Linked DNA regions of Homo sapiens: regions 2 and 3 are each reported to be linked to region 1. The links are microRNA targets in miRTarBase. Many come from high-throughput screens and were not tested one by one. Region 1 holds a microRNA gene; each other region holds the end of a gene's coding sequence.

Region 1 (3,000 bases):
TGGCTTCTCACTCAACAGTCACACTGCATAGTCTCTACCGCCAAGGACAGCATCAAGACAAGGAGAAAAACCTTATCTAAGTCCATGCTCTTAGTCGCCCACTTCCATTTCTGTCGGTGAACTGCCAGTGTGGGGAATCTTACCGAGATGACCCCATTCCGTCATTTGAGTAAGATCAGCCTAGGTGTCAGATCAGAGAAAATGTTTGTACTCTGAACCCCATCACCACATGTCATTTTTTCTAGGGCTCACATGTATAAAATCACTAATACAATTTTGGTTTAGAAGGAAGTTACCTACTTTTTTCTGAAACTTCTGGGACCTCAGACAGAGATCTTTTAAATGTCTGAGTAAATGTTGATAGAATTATACATTACAGTGTATCACTTGATATAAAAGGGGGAAAAACTGATAGAAATACAAAGAAATAAGACTTGAGAGTGAAAGACTTTAGTATACCCTACTCAGCAGTTAAGGAATCAGGTAGATTAAAAATAAGGGTAGTGAAGTGTTCAGTTAAAATAACAAGGTTGATCTAACAAATATCTTTATATAGAACTTTTTACCTAATACACACATTGTTTCAAACTTGATATAGGATGAAAAATAAGTGAACCTAGCCTGTGACTGAAAAGACTAGAGTGGACAAAATAAAAAATAAGCCCCATGAAGGGAAAAAATACATAGATGAAACCAAGAAATTCTTGCTAGAATGATCATGATCGTGCCCATCCCTAAGGGGTTTTTATTATCCTTTCCTTCCATATTTATTTCCCCCTCAGCCCCAAACAATTCTTGAACCTGAGTATGTATAGAGAAATTGGTCATATATTTGCACAGTGAAATGATCACCTTCCTTTGGTCACATGGCCAAAGCATTCTCCATTAGATCACTGAACTCCTAGATGGTCTGGGTGGAGGATGGTGACTATTACAGTTGACCTCTATCTTAGGTGCTTGCAAAGTCCCACATTGGTCTATCCCTTCTTTTTGCAGTGTACTGCATCTAAGTCAAATGACTCCACTGAACAGAATCTCTCAGGTAACTCTCCTTCCCTTTCTCCCTTCTTACTAATCAATTGGTTGCTTCTTTATCCTGATAGTTCCGAGTAGCTGGCCCACATAGGCTGAAGATGGACACTGGTGCTCTGTGGGATGAGGTAGTAGATTGTATAGTTTTAGGGTCATACCCCATCTTGGAGATAACTATACAGTCTACTGTCTTTCCCACGGTGGTACACTTCTTCTCCGACTGGCTCTGTTCAGGTTCTTGTTCTGGTTATTATCTACTTTGTTCTGGCATGGGTAATGAGGTCATGTGTCTTGTTCATTTCCTGACTGCAACTCTGTCCTCTGAAACAGCATGTTCATGTACATCTTTGAAGTGGCTGGTCCTTTGATGACCACCATGGTGTGGCACTTCATGAGAATAACTGATGACAGTGGTTCTCAAATGCCAGTCCTCTGTGGAAACGAACAAAATCAAGGAGCTTTAATGCCTTTTTCATAAAGCTGAATTTATTCCATTTAAAAGGCTGTTTTTGTATTTAGAGATCATATTCCTAATTCTGTGGTACCAAAATATTTTTATTAAATGATGTTGATTGGATGTTTTTTCTTACATGGCTAAACTAAAAGTTGGCAACCCCTACATTAGTCTCTACTTTTTGTTCTTTTTTTAATTAAATTTTATTGGTCCATGGAATCTAAAAGTCTAGGAACATTGTCTTGGATAGTGTGCTGTTCATGAAGGTAGCTCTCTGGGCTTAGTGGTATGACTGCCGTATGTTTCCTATTCCCTCTGATCTTCTTAACAATGGTCAGTAGCCATTTTGTGATTCTATCAGTTGGTTCATGTGATATCATATGTCTCCCCCACCCATATTTCCTCAGAACATTCTTCTGCCTCCCTACACCTGTCTCCTTTCGCACTTGAGTTGGAAAATGATTGTACCAAAGCCTGCACAATATTTTTTAAAGCAGTGAAGTAGGGTAGATGCCTTGGTACCCTTAATCTAGCAAAAGATCTTTAAAAGAGTCTGTCACCATGTAAAATGGCCTTTTGCCTGCTGCCCTTATTAGAGGATTCTGCTCATGCCAGGGTGAGGTAGTAAGTTGTATTGTTGTGGGGTAGGGATATTAGGCCCCAATTAGAAGATAACTATACAACTTACTACTTTCCCTGGTGTGTGGCATATTCACACTTAGTCTTAGCAGTGTTGCCTCCATCAGACAAAGTTGTAGATGTTCCTTGGATAATTTGGACTGGAAGAAAAGAGACATGGAAGGGGACAGATGGTGTTTAGGGTGAGGCAGATGTCATTATAAAGTGACTTGTCTTTCATTAATTGGAGCATATAATTATTTTACCTTTGGGCATGAACTCATTTTGCTATTCTTCAACTGTGTAATGATTGCATTTTATTAGTAATAGAACAGGAATGTGTGCAAGGGAATGGAAAGCATACTTTAAGAATTTTGGGCCAGGCGCAGTGGTTCATGCCTGTAATCCCAGCATTTTTGGGAGGCCGAGGCGGGTGGATCACCTGAGGTCAGGAGTTCGAGACCAACCTGGCCAACACGGCGAAACCCCGCCTCTACTCAAAATACAAAAATTAGCCAGGCTTGGTGACACTCGCCTGTGGTCCCAGCTACTCAGGAGGCTGAGGCAGGAGAATTGCTTGAACCCAGGAAGTGGAGGCTTCAGTGAGCTGAGAACACGCCACTGCACTCCAGCCTGGGCAACAGAGCAAGACTCTGTCTCAGGAAAAAAAAAAAAAAAAAAAAGATTTTGAAGGGCTGGACGCAGTGGCTCACGCCTGTAATCCCAGCACTTTGGGAGGCCGAGGTGGGTGGATTGCTAGAGCTTAGGAGTTTGAGACCAGCCTGGGCAACATGGCAAGACCCTGTCTCTACTAAATATACAAAAAATTAGTCAGGTATGGTGGCACATGCCTATAGTCTCAGCTACTTGGGAGGCTGAGGTGGGAAGATCACCTG
Region 2 (3,000 bases), not on the chromosome of region 1:
CACCTGGGGCCACAGGAGGCCTGGTCATGGGCTACTCCCAGGCTGAGGCACAGCCCCTGCTTACCACTTTGCAAGCTCAGCCTCAAGATTCCCCAGGAGCTGGGGGACCACTGAACTTTGGGCCTCTGCACTCCTTGCCTCCTGTCTTCACGTCTGGCCTGAGTAGCACCACCCTGCCTCGTTTCCATCAAGCATTCCAGTAGCCCCCACAGAGGCCCTCAGCTCAGTTTTTGGCTCTGTTATGGAGCCTTAGTACCCACCCCGTCTGTGTCCCCCATGAAGGCAGCTGAGCTTTCAGAGCTGGGTTCAAAAAAAAAAATTCCAGTGTCTGTATACAGGAGCACTTGGTTTGGGGGTTCAGGCTCTAGGATCGATTCCAGAAGGAGCCTTGAGCCCCAACCCCGTGAAAAGATCTCATACCGTAGGACTTCAGGTATTATTTACTTTTATTTTTTTGACCTGAATCGGGAGCCACACTTGGCCCTCTTCCTCTCCAAAGCGCCAGAACCTCCTTCTCTTTGGAGAATGGGGAGGCCTCTTGGAGACACAGAGGGTTTCACCTTGGATGACCTCTAGAGAAATTGCCCAAGAAGCCCACCTTCTGGTCCCAACCTGCAGACCCCACAGCAGTCAGTTGGTCAGGCCCTGCTGTAGAAGGTCACTTGGCTCCATTGCCTGCTTCCAACCAATGGGCAGGAGAGAAGGCCTTTATTTCTCGCCCACCCATTCCTCCTGTACCAGCACCTCCGTTTTCAGTCAGTGTTGTCCAGCAACGGTACCGTTTACACAGTCACCTCAGACACACCATTTCACCTCCCTTGCCAAGCTGTTAGCCTTAGAGTGATTGCAGTGAACACTGTTTACACACCGTGAATCCATTCCCATCAGTCCATTCCAGTTGGCACCAGCCTGAACCATTTGGTACCTGGTGTTAACTGGAGTCCTGTTTACAAGGTGGAGTCGGGGCTTGCTGACTTCTCTTCATTTGAGGTCACATTTTTCCCCCGTGGGGAAATAAACTGACTTTGGACTGCTTCAGTCTCTGCCATCTTCCATGACTGCATTTGTTCCTGCCTGCCTCGGCGGTATCCACAGAAGACAGGCAAGAGGATTGGAGCAGTTTTCTCACAGGTCTGCAATTCTGTTTTTCTCCAAGTACATTATGACCCCCTCATCCTTCTCTTGAACTGGAGAGGGGAAGAAATGAAAGGCATGCCCACGTCCGTCACCTCCCCATCCCCTAGTCCCCACCTTGAACATCATGAGCTGTTGTTATTAGTCTTGGAAGCAGAGTCTGGGTTGGTGTGGATAGCAAAGGAGGAAGTCTGAGCCCCTCATTGGTCTTCCTCCCACCTGTCCCTTTTCCGGGAAGTTGTGGAATTGTTGGAAGAAGAGTTTGCAGAAGGTTAGGAATGGGTAGATAGCTAAGTCCTAATCTATGGGTACATTGTTGTGTCCCAAACCAAAATTTTCCTTATCCACAATGTCCCTTCTGTCTCTTCCACTTTACAGTGGACTCGGCCACTGTGCATAGGCTTCTCTGCTCTCCATCAAATCACTTCCACTTTCCTGTGCCCCCACCCCCGCCTCCAGTTTTCCGCTAGTATCCGGCAAGGTTTCTTGCAACAAATGATTAGTTCTTTTCTTCTGACTCGTGGGGCTCCCTGCTGCAGAGAGCACAGCCCTTGCCTGGAGCCCAGGAACCCCATCCTTGCTTCATCTCAGTTCTTCATGGGCTTCACTCTTCCCACTCACGGAAGGGAGGTAGCTCAGGGACCTCCACTGTGGGACCCTTGAGACGCTTCCACTCTGATTCAGAAACACACTTCTACCTCTTTACTGTTAACTCTTAACAGATGCAGTCAGCAGTTTCTGGGCACTTCTCTCAGTAGGTGCCTCATGCTGACTTCTCCAGTAGGGTTTCAGGACAAACTACCAAGGAATTGCCTCAGCCTCCTACCAGTCCTCCCTCACCCACCTTCTGTCTAGGTTCACTTGGTTTGTCATCAGGAACTGAGCAGGTCCAGGACTCAGCTTTCTGCTTCAGCCTAAGCCAGTACTCCTTGTTTGAGGTAAAAGCCTTAAAATTTAGCTCCCTAGCTCTTGATTAGAAGCAATTTGGAGTAAGTGTGTTTTGATTTAGGCAGGGTAGCTTGGGATACCTTTTTAAAAACACCAGATATTAAAATGTCTGGCAAGGTTAGAATCAGACTAGATGATTTGCTTCTAAAAATTAGTTTCAGTGAGTCCCAGGGACTAATTAAGGTTTATTTTAAAAAGTGTCTACCTTGGTACGCAGCCACCTCCTGCATGCTGTGCATGTTATTGGGACTTGTATTATAGGTGATGGTATGTGAGAATCCAGTTGGGACTCGCTGTTGCCATCCTCTTTGTTGTATCTGGTTTTCATCACTAGACTCAGCAACCCTTCTCACCTTAACTGCCACCTTCCCTACACTCTCAGTTTACAGAGGCCACTGGGCCTCTGGCTGCAGAATACAAAGTCCCGGGCTGTTAGAGGAGTCCTTTCCTCTCTGCCTGCCCTTTCCTGTCCCTCCCTCGAATTCTCTCTCCCCGTAAGTGATGCTGGAAAAGTCATAGGACTGGCAAAGCAACTGTTTAAACCCTTTGTAACCGGGGCCTTGCCCCCACCTCCTGTCTTTTCTCCTTGCCTTCCCCACTCCTGTGTCCTCCCATCTATCCTGTCTTTCCTTTCCTCCTCTCAGTGTCCTCAGCACCCACAAGGAATTTTCCTATCACTGTGAACTTTGCTGGTACAGAGGAATAATATCTGCCTTCACCTTTTTTTTTTTGGACCATAGCTAGCCAGTCATTTCTTAAACCTCCCTTCCTAAAATCTGGGGGGTCGGGGGGAAAGAAAAAAAAAGCCTTAGTGGCCTGGTTGTTCAAAGGATAAGAATAGCTTTATCCTGCACTCAGTACCCGAACTCACTTCAGTATGCTTACTGAGGCCATGAGAACCTGAGGGGCATCTGCCCA
Region 3 (3,000 bases), not on the chromosome of region 1:
TTGGGAAGCCAAGGGGGGAGGATCACAAAGTCAGGAGATCGAGACCATCCTGGCTAACACGGTGAAACCCCGTCTCTATTAAAAATACAGAAAATTAGCTGGGTGTGGTGGCATGCGCCTGTAGTCCCAGCTACTCAGGAGGCTGAGGCAGGAGAATCGCTTGAACCTGGGAGGTGGAGGTTGCAGTGAGCTGAGATGACACCACTGCACTCTAACTTGGGCAACAGAGTGAGACGCTGCCTCAAAAAAAAAAAAAAAAAATGTGGCGCAGGGAAAGGGGGAACTGAGAGCTACTGCTGGATGAGAGGATGCCAGGAAGTCCAAGGGTGTTAAGAGGAGCAGCAGGCCAGGTGCAGTGGCTCAAGCCTGTAATTCCAGCACTTTGGGAGGCTGAGGCAGGTGGATCACCTGAGGTCAGGAGTTCAAGACCAGCCTGACCAACATGGTGAAACCCTGTCTCTACTAAAAATACAAAAATTATCCAGGTGTGGTGGTATACCCCCGTAATCCCAGCTACTCGGGAGGCTGAGGCAGGAGAATCACTTGAACCTGGGAGGTGGAGGTTGCAGTGAGCCAAGATCACACCATTGCACTCCAGCCTGGGTGACAGAGCGAGACTCCGTCTCAAAAAAAAAGAGGAGCAGCAGAATGCGGCTGGTACCTCTTTTCCCCTCCACTGGCATCACAAACCAAAGGGACCATTTGCTTTCCCCAGACCTCACACAACTTCTGGCCATGAGAAGCAGCTCAGTAAATGTCAGCTGCAATCATAAGTGGTGTTTGTCCTCCGGAAGCCCCAGGTGAGTGTCCACAGTTCCCTGGGACCCTGGAGGGGCTCCGTGGCCTGCTCCTGCTGCCTGCCCTGATGTCCCCTAACACAGTCCTGGAAACGAGGGGTGCCTGGTGACTTCCAGCCTCCTCTTACGTGTTTAGTTCTGAAAGCCGCAGTTACTCCATCCCAGAAGGCACCAGCTGCTCTCTGGCCATATCTTACAGAAGGGGCAGTACAACACTGGCTTGATATTCATCTATGAACCAATTTAATTTTAATTTAAAAATGACTTCTGATCTGGCAGATGATTTGGGTTCTAGAAAGAAATTGTGCCAGGCATGGTGGCTCATGCCTGTAATCCCAGCACTTTGGGAGGCTGAGGTGGGAGAAACCTGTGAGCTCAGGAATTGGAGACCAGCCTGGGCAACGTAGCAAGACTTCATTTCTACAATAATAATAATAAAAAAAGGCCAGGTGCGGTGGTTCACACCTGTAATCCCAGCACTTTGGGAGGCCACGAGACAGGTGGATCATGAGGTCAGGAGTTCGAGACCAGCCTGGCCAACGTGGTGAAACCCTGCCTCTACTAAAAACACAAAAATTAGCTAGGCGTGGTGGCGGGAGGCTGTAATCCCAGCTACTAGGGAGGTTGAGGCAGGAGAATCACTTGAATCTGGAAGGCAGAAGTTGCAGTGAGCCGAGGTCACACCATTGCACTCCAGCCTGGGCAACAAGAGCGAAACTCTGTCTCAAAAAAAAAAAAAAAAGGGCCGGGCATGGTGGCTCATGCCTGTAATCCCAGCACTTTAGGAGGCCGAGACGGGTGGATCATGAGGTCAGGAGTTCAAGACCAGCCTGACCAACGTAGTGAAACCCAGTCTCTACTAAATATACAAAAAAAATGAGCTGGGCGTGGTAGTGAGTGCCAGTAGTCCCAGCTACTTGGGAGGCTGAGGCAGGAGAATTGCTTGAACCCAGGAGGTGGAGGTTGAGGTTGCAGTGAGCCGAGATCATGCCACTGCATTCCAGCCTGAGTGACAGAGTGAGACTCAGTCTCAAAAAAAAAAAAAAAAAAAAAGAACAGGCATGGTGGCTCATGCCTGTAATCCCAGCACTTTGGGAAGCCAAGGTGGGCAGATCACCTGAGCTCAGGAGTTCAAGATCAGCCTGAGCAACATGGTGAAACCTTGTCTCTACAAAAAATACAAAAATTAGCCAGGAGTGGTGGCGTGTGTCTGTAGTCCCAGCCACTTGGGAGACTGAGGTGGGAGAACCTCTTGAACCCAGGAGGTAGAGGTTGCAGTGAGCCAAGATCCCACCACTATACTCCAGCTTGGGTGACAGAGTATGACCCTGTCTCAAAAAAAAAAAAAAAAAAAAGAAAGAAAAAAAATTGCAGGTGTCTTCCCCTATCCCAAGAGGGTGGCCAAGTCAGCCCTGCTAGAATAGAGTGAATTCCAGTTCCATCTCTATCAGACAGTTCCTGACCATTTGGCAAGATGGTACTTCTGGTATTTCTGCTAAAAGGCTTCGCTCCCCAAAGTGAAGACCTGAGGTGTGAATGTCAGGAACAAAATGATAGCAGCATTCTGGTTTCTCATTGCAGGCTTTCGTTCCATTCTCCCTGCCTGAGCTGTTTCAAACTGTTCCAGAATGTTCCAAACAGCCTCTTCTCTCTCTTGCTGTTTTGCCTTCCTCCTTTCCTTCACTACCCTCTTCTTCAAGCAAGAAACAAAATTCAGTAGAAAGCAGCAGAAGCTCTAGGGAGACAGAAAAGTGAAAGGGGAGAAGAGTACACTTCGTCCTCCCTCTCCTAGCCTGAAGTCCTGCCTTCTCCAGGAGTCAAGAGTCAGTGAAAACAATGGTGCTGGTTTTCCTGAGAGTCAGCAGCTATGACCTGTGGTGTGAGTCAAGGGAGAAGTGTGGCCCATCCAGACTGGGAGGATTAGGGGTGAGCGGCAAGTCCACGCTGGGGTCTAAAGCGCCACTGGGGCAACACTACGGTATCCTGGCTACCTTTGGTTTCAGAGGCGGCCTCTTTGGTGGGTGCAACTGGCTTTGCAAACATCTTAGCAAGTGCAGTGGGTCTTTTCACTTGGACCCTGGGCCATAAGAACGGGGCTGGAGTCCAGGGGGAGGCCGTTCAGGGCACTCTCCCCATATAGGTGCAGGCTGTTGCGCGCGATCAGCTCCTTGGCCATGAGCACGAAGACTTCTTCTATGTTCTT

Evidence for each region. Region 1 holds the annotated microRNA hsa-let-7f-5p (UGAGGUAGUAGAUUGUAUAGUU, at 1,157-1,178, shown strand). A microRNA usually pairs through its seed, bases 2 to 8, with sites in the 3' UTR of a target mRNA and lowers its output. Matches are read on the target gene's strand: a 7mer-m8 pairs with bases 2 to 8, a 7mer-A1 pairs with bases 2 to 7 and ends in A, and an 8mer does both.
Region 2: the mRNA of PLAGL2 is a reported target of hsa-let-7f-5p. Seed matches in the 3' UTR shown: 7mer-m8 at 1,829-1,835.
Region 3: miRTarBase lists RAB19 as a target of hsa-let-7f-5p. Seed matches in the 3' UTR shown: 7mer-m8 at 2,060-2,066.

The regions. Positions count from the first base shown.
Region 1 is chrX:53,555,424-53,558,423 of GRCh38, reverse strand. MIRLET7F2 (microRNA let-7f-2) reads left to right here and starts at 1,150; the gene lies at 1,150-1,232. It overlaps HUWE1 (HECT, UBA and WWE domain containing E3 ubiquitin protein ligase 1), which reads left to right. Exons shown (of 84, transcript NM_031407.7): 60 at 997-1,042. MIR98 (microRNA 98) reads left to right here and starts at 2,083; the gene lies at 2,083-2,201.
Region 2 is chr20:32,193,655-32,196,654 of GRCh38, reverse strand. PLAGL2 (PLAG1 like zinc finger 2) reads left to right here. Exons shown (of 3, transcript NM_002657.3): 3 at 1-3,000. The coding sequence ends at 203. Among named protein-coding and RNA genes, the nearest start is that of PLAGL2, 13 kb to the left of the region's middle. RefSeq lists an enhancer at 1-352.
Region 3 is chr7:140,425,992-140,428,991 of GRCh38, reverse strand. It overlaps RAB19 (RAB19, member RAS oncogene family), which reads right to left. Exons shown (of 4, transcript NM_001008749.3): 4 at 1,018-3,000. The coding sequence ends at 2,842. Among named protein-coding and RNA genes, the nearest start is that of RAB19, 23 kb to the right of the region's middle.